2 separate regions of the Homo sapiens genome follow, and region 1 is linked to region 2. The links come from fine-mapping of genetic effects on gene expression. A gene starts in region 2. The other region holds a variant in brackets. All regions are shown on one strand. Distances are from middle to middle. Region 1 holds the start of LOC124901190 (U7 small nuclear RNA). Region 2 holds the start of GDF9 (growth differentiation factor 9).

What was found. PIP is the estimated chance that this variant, and not a neighbour inherited with it, causes the effect.
Region 1: its variant is fine-mapped to the expression of GDF9 in prefrontal cortex (BrainSeq, PIP 0.95).

The regions. Positions count from the first base shown.
Region 1 is chr5:132,841,176-132,846,700 of GRCh38, forward strand. It overlaps LOC124901190 (U7 small nuclear RNA), which reads right to left and starts at 132; the gene lies at 73-132. It also overlaps the pseudogene RNU7-15P. The variant T/TAC (reference allele first, on the strand shown) is at 2,873.
Region 2 is chr5:132,864,082-132,869,081 of GRCh38, forward strand. GDF9 (growth differentiation factor 9) reads right to left here and starts at 2,388. Exons shown (of 2, transcript NM_005260.7): 1 at 56-2,388. The coding sequence starts at 452. UQCRQ (ubiquinol-cytochrome c reductase complex III subunit VII) reads left to right here and starts at 2,561. Exons shown (of 3, transcript NM_014402.5): 1 at 2,561-2,606; 2 at 2,788-2,954; 3 at 3,407-4,766. The coding sequence starts at 2,801. The coding sequence ends at 3,501. RefSeq lists enhancers at 1,840-3,039, 1,898-2,398, 2,399-2,899.

The DNA.
Region 1 (5,525 bases), 23 kb before region 2:
TGATGGCTCTGTCCATGAGCAGACTCATTGTCAGCCCTCACTTGGGGAACTGACTTTTTTGTTTAACTTTTTTGGGGCTTTCTGGCAAAAACCAGAAAGCCTGCTAGACAAATTCTAAGAGCTGTAACACTGGGAACCAACTTTTTTTTTTTTTTTTGAGACAGAGTCTTGCCCCGTTGCCCAGCCTGGAGTGCAGTGGCGAAATCTCAGCTCACTGCAACCTCCGCTTACTGGATTCAAGTGATTCTCCTGCCTCAGGCTTCCAAGTGGCTGGGATTACAGGCATGAGTCACCATGCCCGGCTAATTTTTTGTACTTTTGGTAGAGACAAGGTTTCACCATGTTGGTCCCAAACTCCTGACCTCAAGTGATCCACCCTCCTTGAACCAACTTCTAAAAAAACATTAGACCCTGGGGCCAGTCATTTCCTTCAAGTCACCACACTTCCTATATCACTCTCTCCTCTTGGTGGTTTTGACAAAAAGATGTGACTTGCCATACCCTAAGAAGCTGCTTTCTTTTCAGAGCAGATTGCTTTGGTCACTCACTTGGGCACAGCAATGAGAGGTCTAGGGAGGTGCTGCCATGAATGGAAGCAAGGACTTTCAAGAGAGTTCATTTGGACCCCATTCTTTTCTTTTTTTTTTTTTTTGGCAGAGTTTCACTCTTGTCGCCCAGGTTGGAGTACAGTGGCGCAATCTCAGCTCACTGCAACATTTGCCTCCCGGGTTCAAGTGATTCTTCCGCCTCAGCTTCCGGAGTAGCTGAGATTACAGGCATGCACCACCACGCCACGCTGATTTTAGTATTTTTAGTGGAGACGGGTTTTCACCATGTTGGCCAGGTTGGTCTCGAACTCCTGACCTCAGGTGATCCACCCACCTCAGCCTCTCAAAGTGCTGGGATTACAGGCATGACCCACCGTGCCCGGCCTAGATCCTCTTTCTTGGTTCTTGGGATTGGATTAATAACCTTTATTAGTGATGGTGGTAGGTCCTTGTTTATAATTATTCTGTGAACAAGCGTTCTTTTCGAAAACTTTATAAGTGCCTGAAAAGGATTAAAAATAGACTGGGCACAGTGGCTCACGCCTATAATCGCAGCACTTTGGGAGGCCGAGGTGGGCGGATCACCTGAGGTCAGGAGTTTGAGACCAGCCTGACCAACATGGAGAAACCCCGTCTCTACTAAAAATACAAAATTAGCTGGGCATGGTGGTGCATGCCTATAATCCCAGCTACTCGGGAGGCTGAGGCAGAAGAATCGCTTGAAACCAGGAGGCGGAGGTTGCAGTGAGCCAAGATCTCACCATTGCACTCCAGCCTGGGCAACAAGAGTGAAACTCCGTCTCAATAATAATAATAATAATAATAATAATAATAATAATAATAAAGCCAAACTGCAACTCTCTGGTCTTCCTGAAATAGTGAATGCTTTCCCTAAATTAGATTTACCTTAGTATGCTTAATAGCTTACAATGCACCAAATAAAAAGACAAACAATTCAATTTTTAAAAATAGACTAAGGATTTGAACAGGAAGAATTTGAATTTCTCGCAAGATCTACAAATAGCCAATAAGCACTAAAAAAGGTGCTCAACCTCAAATTCAACTCAAAAGCACAATTAGGTACCACTTCATACCCACTAGAATGGCTATAAGACAAAAAGTCAGATAGTAAGTATTGAGGAGGATATAAAGGAAACCTCACGCACTGCTGCTGGGAGTGTAAAATGATACAACTGACTTGGAAAACTGTTTCTTAGTTCACCAAATGATTAAACAGAAAGTTACCATATGACCCAGCAATTCCACTCTTTGGTCTATCCCCAAGAGAACTGAAAACATATGTTCATGTCAAAACCTGTACGTATGTTTATATCAGCATGATTCATAATAGACAAAAAGTGGAAACGACCTAAATGGCCACCAACAGATTAATGAATAAATAAAATCTGGTATATCTATACAATGGAATATTATTCAGCCATAAAAAGAAATGAAGTGCTGACATGTACTACAACGTGTGGACCTCGAGAACATTATGCTAAGTGAAAGAAAACGGACAAAACCCCACGTATTATTCCATGTATATGAAATGTCCAGAATGGGCAAATCCACAGAGAAAGAAGGGATGAGAAGTGACTATTAAATGGTACGAGGCCTCTTTGGGTGATGACAGAAATGTTCATCTCTAGGCCCCATCTCTAGATAGTGGGATAATTATAAAATCTTGTGACTAGGCTGGGTGTGGTGGCTTAAGCCTGAAATCCCAGCACTTTGGGAGGCTGAGGCATGAAGACTGCTTGAGCACAGGAGTTTGAGACCAGCCTGGGCAACATAATGAGATGCTGTCCCTATTAAAAAAAATTTTTTTTAATCTTGTGACTATACTAAAGATAACTGAATTTACATTTTTTTTTGAGAGAGAGTTTCACCCTGTTGCCCAGGCTGGAGTGCAGTGGCACGGTCTCGGCTCACTGCAGCCTCTCCCTCCCAGGTTCAAGCGATTCTCCTCCCTCAGCCTCTGGAGTAGCTGGGATGACAGGTGCCTGCCACCATGCCCAGTTAATTTTTTCGTATTTTTAGTAGAGACTGGGTTTCACCATGCTGGCCAGGCTGGTCTTGAACTCCTGGCTTCAAGTGATGCGCCAGCCTCAGCCTCCCAAAGCGCCGGGATTACAGGTATGAGCCACCGTGCAGGGCCTACACTTTTTGTTTTTAGTTGGAGTTTTGCTCTTGTTGCCCAGGCTGGAGTGCAGTGGCGCGATCTCAGCTCACTGAAACCGCCTCTCGGGTTCAAGCAATTCAATTCAAGCAATACATATACACACACACACACACACAAATATATGTATGTATACACGCATACA[T/TAC]ACACACACACACACACACTTAAGAGTTGTCATTGACATTGGCCTATTCTTTATTTTCTTGGAGACAGAGTCTCACTCTGTCGCACAGGCTGGTGCAGTGGTGCGATCTCAGCTCACTACAACCTCCGCCTCCTGGGTTCAAGTAATTCTCGTGCCTCAGCCTCCCAAGAAGCCAGGATTACAGGCACATGCCACCACACCTGGCTAATTTTTGTATTTTTAGCAGAGATGGGATTCTGCCATGTTAACCAGGCTAGTCTCGAACTCCTGGCCTCAAGCAATCCACCCAACTCAGAGTGGTGGAATTACAGGCGTGAGCCACCACACCCGGCCTGACATTGGCCCATTCATGCTCAAGGTCTTCACATACAAAGCAAGAGATGGCTTCTAAGGGTTCTAACCACTCTGATGTTTTAAGCATGTGTCTACAAATGCAGAAAGCAAGCTCAAGTACTCTTGCACTAAATTACTAATTCAGAGCACCTTCTGCCCATAGACCTAAAGGTATCTTGCAAGCCAGGTGATCTCAGGTTTATTTGTGGGCCACAGGCTCAGATGTTAATGTGCCTGCAGATCACATGACTTTTTAAAAATTACCATTGTGTGTAAATTAGTCTACTAATCATTAAAATTAAGAATCTTGGCCGGGCGCTGTGGCTCACACCTGTAATCCCAGCACTTTGGGAGGCCAAGGCGGGAGGATCACCTGAGGTCAGGAGTCCAAGACCAGCCTGGCCAACATGATGAAACCCCGTCTCTACTAAAAATTCAAAAATTAGCCGGGCGTCGGGGTGGGCTCCTGTAATCCCAGCTACTCAGGAGGCTGAGGCAGGAGAATCGCTTGAAACCAGGAGGTGGAGGCTGCAGTAAGCCAAGACTGTACCATTGCACTCCAGCCTGGACACCCAAGAGCGAAACTCCGTCTCAAAAAAGAAAAAAAAAAAGAATCTTTAGCAGTAATACAAAAGGAGTCTGTTCAAAAGTATATAGCCTAGTGCTACCTGTTAACCAACTCTAATCTGATTTGATCATATCATAATGAAAATATTTACATTATCCTCAAAACCTATCAGGTCAAGGCATGTCCCAATCCTGACACCCTGTTTGTATTTACATGGTAGTTCTCAGCTTCATGTTAGCAGTTTCATGAAACAATAAGAACTTTGGCAGAATTAGGTCGAGGTCCTCTTGGTGGGCAGAGTAACATCTCCCTGTATTCTATCAGTTCCTTTGACTTGGATAGGACAGATATTAGACAGCTCTTGAGGACTGCATTCCAAAGGTAGCTGCAGAAAATCAACACATTTCACAGGTGTCTCAGACTGTGCCTCTCTCCCAAATTGTGCCCATTTTCACCAGGGAGAGCTGCAGTTTATCTTATACCATTCATGATTCCACCATGCTTAGGCAGTTCAGTAATGGGAAAGAAGTATATTTGGGTTCGAGACCAGAAAGCTATTTGGGCATGGTGGCATGTGCCTGTTAGGCCCAGCTACTAAGGAGCCCAAGGCAGAAGGATCACTTGAGCCCAGGACTTTAAGACCAGGCTGGACAACACAAGAAGATTCTCTTTCTCTTTAAAAAGAGAGACAGACAGACAGACAGACAGACAGACAGAGAGAGAGACAGAGAAAGCCACTGCATAGGAGGAGGAAATATATTAAATAATAGGCTGGGCACAGTGGCTCATGCCTATAATCGCAGCATTTTGGGAGGCCAAGGTGGGTGGATTACTTGAGCTCAGGGGTTTGAGACCAGCCTGGGCAACATAGCAAGACCTCGCCTCAACTTTAAAAAAAACAAAAAAAATCAGCTGGGCATGGTGGTGCATGCCTATAGTCCCAGCTACTTGGGAAGCTGAAGCGGGAGGATTGCTTGAGCTCAAGAGATCAAGGCTGCAGTGAGCTGTGATCATGCCACTTCGCTCCAGCTTGGGAGACAGAATGAGACTCTGTCTCAAAAAAAAAAAAAGGATAATAAATATATAATGTGTATACATTAGAAGTATCATGAGCCCTACCTTGCAGCAGTATCAGGCAGAGTTTACAATAAAATCGTATGAGGAAGGGACTGTTGCACTGTTCAATAGAAATATGAGCCATATATGTAGTTTAAAGTCAGTTAATAGACATATTTAAAAAGTAGGCCGGGTACAGTGGCTCACGCCTGTAATCCCAGCACTTTGAGAGGCCGAGGCAGGTGGGACACCTGAGGTCAGGAGTTTGAGACCAACCTGGCCGACATGGTGAAACCCCATCTCTACTAAGAATACAAAAAAAATTAGCTGGGCATGATGGCAGATGCCTGTAACCCCAGCTACTCGGGGGGCTGAGGCAGGAGAATTGCTTGAACCCAGAAGGCAGAGGTTGCAGTGAGATCACGCCACTGCACTCCAGCCTGGGCAACAGAGCTAGACCCCATCTTTAAAAAAATAGTAAAAAGGGCTGGGCACGGTGGCTCATGCCTGTAACCCCAGCACTTTGGGAGGCTGAGGCTGGCGCATCACTTGAAGCCAGGAGTTCAAGACCAGCCTGGCCAGCATGGTGAAACCCAGTCTCTACTAAAAATACAAAAAAATTAGCAGGGCGTGGTGGCTCATGCCTACAATACCAACTACTTGGGAGGCTGAGATGGGAGAATCACTTGAACTCAG
Region 2 (5,000 bases):
GCAGAAGTGTCTATCATCTTCCCTCCACCCAGTTAACCAATCTGCTTTCACATACCTGTTACCTGGTCTCCAGGAGCCTGCTTGTGCCGGGTACAGGGGGTGAAGAGCCGAACAGTGTTGTAGAGGTGACTTCTATTGGATTTAGGAATCCCTTCCTTGGTAGCATATGTCTTATAGAGCTTCTTCATGTAGTGCAAAGCTCTGGAGTCTGGCTGCAGCCTAGGTGACCCACCTCGCCCAACAGATAGAACTTTGAAAAGCGCGGGAAGGAGGCCAGCTCTGTCTCTCTCATCTATATGCTGCAGCAAGGACCAAGGCATAGCCCCAGATTCCAACTCAGCACTAGCAGCAATCTGAGCTTCTCCCCCAGAAGCCTGAGAACCAAGGCTAATAGGAAAACACAGCCAGGCAAAGCAGCAAAACCAAAGGAGGAATTTGTTGGGACGTGCCATGGCTTGGGAGAACTAGTGAGGAACATATTTCTCCATGCCAGTCCTCTTCCTAAAGGCCAGGAAGAGCCTAGCTTGGTCTCTTAAATAAATTTCAGGTGTGTGGGTGGACTACGGTCACTTCTGTAATCAGGCCTCAAGTATGCCTAGCTGAAGATTTTATCAGCTCTATATCAAGCAGCTGATAACACCTTATTTAGCCAATTTGTTAATTAGATACAGATTTACTTGGTTATTTAGCTTTCCTCTCTTTTCCCCTGGCATTTACGTAAAACCCGTTACTGTTACACTACCGGACTAACTATGTAGCTGAAAGTCTAAGATAAATTGAGGAATGATCTTAAATAAAATCTCTCATTTTTTGAGAAATTTGGATTAAGATGTTCGCTAGGTGCTTGCTGAAACTTCTAAGGCATGTGGAAAAGCTAACCAATTATTCATGACGATACTCAGATCTGCTGGTATGCAACTTATGGTATTAGGTTTACTCTTCCTCTCAATTTATCCTCACGGCCTTTTCCACTTCCAGGTGTTTACAATTGTAATTATTCGCTGCATGTTAATTTGCGAATTTACAAATTTGGGTGAGAAAGTCACAATTGGCATAGAAGTTCCAGAAAGCAGAAAACCATTAGGTCTCTCAGTCCTCCCAGGTGGCTGGGTACAGAATACGTACTTGGAGTACTGGAATTGTATTTGCGATGTTCTTAAAAGAGGACACCGCCTTTAACCTTGACTTATTTTTAAATGTAACATACTGATGTCCTTACTTTGGTCTGCACACTCATCTATACATATTTTGGTTGAAAGGTTTTGGGATGTTTGCAGATGCTATAAAATAAATGAACGTTTTATTATTATTCATCCAAATGGTGGTAGAATTTGCCACAATATTTCTGTCCTTACCTGTATTTCTGTTCTTGCCTTGGAGCTGAGACCAGGCTAGACATTATGGTTTAAAAAAATGAGGCAAAGGAGCACCATGAAAAGCTGAAATGAGGGGATATTCAGCGCCACCCCGAAGGAGACTATGCTGGAAGAGTCAGCCTACACTCATAGTGCAAGATACGAAGCCAGTTTGTGCAGTACCTACATGAGAAAACTAAGGTATGTCTGCAAAATACAAGTTGACTGCCTGCCGAGCCTCCGTGGTCCGTAAGTAGTGTTATAAAACACAGCCAACTGTTGAATGAGAGCTTAGTCCTAGATAAAATATGGCCAGCAATTCCATTAACAAAACACTGACAAGACACCTCAGGGCGAGCTGTACATTGACAACAGCATCGTCAAGCAGAATGCACTTCAGGGAAAACATAATAAGGCCTCTCACCCGACTTTCCTTGCTTCTCACGTGGGGAGAAGAAAGAACTGGGGCATCGTGATTCCCCCCACCCCACGCAAACCATCTGGGGAGGACGCTGGCTGCTGTCGAGGCGGCCTCAGCATTCATCAATTGACGATTATTTGATTATTTTTGTGGCTGAAACTGACGAAACGTTTGTATTATCTCTTGGGAACGTTAACAGCCTGCCAGGGGACTCTAAAACAGAGTCCAAGAGAAGCCTTCGATGTGTGTCCCTGATTTTGGTGCTGGGGTCGCTCATGGCCTGAAAATAACGAAGCCCCCTTTGAGCTACTGGCCAAGGCCAAATGAAACCTCGTGCTCCTCTGCTGTGGGGCGGCCCGGCCTCGGGGCTCAGAGGCGCTCTGTCTACAGCTGGGAAGACTCGCAGGCCCCAAGCTCCTGGCCAGCGCTGCCCCGGAGGTCGGCAGGCCCCTTCCTCGTCACCTTTTTGTTCCCTCCCCCGCCTCCCGCATTCGGCCGCTTCCTGACTGGGATTCCACAGAAAAGCCGAGGGCTGAGGAGAAGTGTGAGCGCCTCCGCCTGTCCACTGTCCCCCAAAGTCAGTTCAATCCCCGACGTCCTCCGCTAGGCTCCACCCCACCGGCCCGGGCAGGGCCTCCAAGGCACCTCCCACCTACGGGTCACCCAGTCAGCCCACTTCTTTCTGGGACAAAGGCGTCATCCCTTAGAGACAGTAGGAAAATGGTATCTCCCGGAAGTTACCTCACGACCTCCAAGAGCGGCTTCCAACCTTGCCGGAAATGACGAACGAGTCAACCGGATCGGTGACTGTGGAGGGCGAGCTGAGCCCTGTGCGTGAGTGGGGTCTGGTTGTGCAGTGTTCGTGGACCCTGGGAGGCTAGGGGCGCCCCGCTGGGCTGGGAAAGGATAAGGAGTGCAGGGGCAGGAGTCTGGGGTTGGGGATGGACCCCCGCGGGGACTGCGGCGCTTCGCGAAAGCGAGCCAAGCGCCTGTCCACCCTCGGTCCTGCAGGGCCGCCGCCACAATGGGCCGCGAGTTTGGGAATCTGACGCGGATGCGGCATGTGATCAGCTACAGCTTGTCACCGTTCGAGCAGCGCGCCTATCCGCACGTCTTCACTAAAGGAATCCCCAATGTTCTGCGCCGCATTCGGGAGTCTTTCTTTCGCGTGGTGCCGCGTGAGTGCCTTGGGCCCGCGGGAGCGGGAGGCTGGACCCCAGCAGCAGCAGCAGTCACTGCGCCTCCCCTCTGAGCGCTGGCGGCCGGGCAGGCGCTCTGTAACTTGCCGTACACACCTTTCTCATTGAATATTCCTGACCGCCCTTAAGCTGGTCATATTATCCTCCCCATCTTACACGGGGAAAACTGAGCTACAGAACTGAAATGACTGGCCCAAGGTCACTCGGGTGATTCCAGCATGTTCCTCTGAGGTCACCTTTATTTAGTTCTTACCAGTGGTGAAATGCTTTGTGTTAAACGTGCAGCAGATAGTGATGATAGTTGCATGGCCTTGGATATGCTAAGAACTACTGAAGTGTATGCTTTAAAGAAGACAAGAGGACTGAGACCTTTTTTTTTCTTCTATATGTCTTATATGTGTGCTCTCTGTTTACTCTCTTAATTTTTAAAGAGTTTGTAGTGTTTTATCTTATCTACACATGGGGGACTGAAGAGTTCGAGAGATCCAAGAGGAAGAATCCAGCTGCCTATGAAAATGACAAATGAGCAACGCATCCGGATGACGGTTCCCTGTCTCTGAAAGACCTTTCTCTGGAAGAGGAGTCTGCATTGTAGTGTCTCAAAGACACAATAAACTTCCTATGGTCTGCACTGTTGTGATATTACATTTTTGTGAGTAGAATCCTGTGTGACCACTAATATTCAAGTTCATGAAGCGCCCCTCCTCAGCATGAGTCTTGAAGTTTTGCCTGGTCTCGGGTTTTGGTGAAAGAGCAGGGCTCCCCCTTTGTTCCATTATCTACAAGAAAGTAGCTGCAGGTACTCCTGCATCTAACCATTTGTGGGTGACATGGGCTATGGCGAGTGCTGGTTCTTGGCCCTCTGCTCCCATAGCAACAATAAAGTCTACTAACTATATTGTAATTAGTATGTGTCAGGGACGCTTTTATTTTTTATTTTTTGAGATGGAGTCTTGCTCTCTCACCCAGGCTGGAGTGCAGTGGTGTGATCTCGGCTCACTGCCATCTGTGCCTCCTGGGTTCAAACGATTCTCCTGTCTCAGCCTCCGAGTAGCTGGGATTACAGGTGCAGGACACCACACCTGGCTAATTTTTTGTATTTTTAGTAGAGACAGGTTTCACCATGTTGGCCAGGCTGGTCTGGAACTCCTGACCTCAGATGATCTGTGCGCCTCAGCCTCCCAAAGTGCTGGGATTACAGGCGTAAGCCATGGTGCTCTGGGCCTCAAATACTCTTCTTAGCTACACAAATGAACTGTTAAACCTCACAAGCACCTTTAACGTATCCTCATTTGGCAGATGAGGAAATGGGCACAGAGAGATTAAGTAATTTGCCAGAAATTATACAGCAGTGAATGGTGGAGTCTTGCACTAAAGTGATGCTCTTAAAACTATGCTCTATTGCAGGGGTGTCCAATCTTTTAGCTTCCCTGGGCCACACATAAAATACGCTAACATTACAATAGCTGATAAGCTTTAAAAAATGGCAAAAAAAACCCTCAGCGTTTTAGAAAGTTTACAAATTTTTGTTGGGTCGGATTCAAAGCCATCCTGGGCTGCTTGCTGCCCAGGACTGCGGTTGGACAAGCTTGCTCTACTGCCTTTCCTCCTAAGGCAGGCCTTAGCCTGAGGGGATATCAGCTATAAAACGGATGAGGTGATCTCTTAGCCTCCACAGCAGTTTTCTGTTTCTGTGCCAGGAGGCCAACAATGTTTTCAACCATATGTGGTTCATAAAGCCTCAAAGATTTACTCTGGCCCTTTATGAATAAAGTTTACCCCTGATCTAAAGCCTTTAAATTATCTTTTTGGTATTAAAGATACCATTTTCCCTTCGCCCACCGAGAGATGGTGGGGGTAGGTGTGGTTGGCAGTTTTATGCCTCTAGTTCCTTAGAGAGGCTTCTCTCTAAGCTTCGGGACATGGATCTCACCTGTGGTAGCAGGTATGTGGAATATGATGAGTTGTCATAGCTCAGTCAGTACAGTATATGCTATGGGATCTGAGATCCGTTTTTAGAAACTC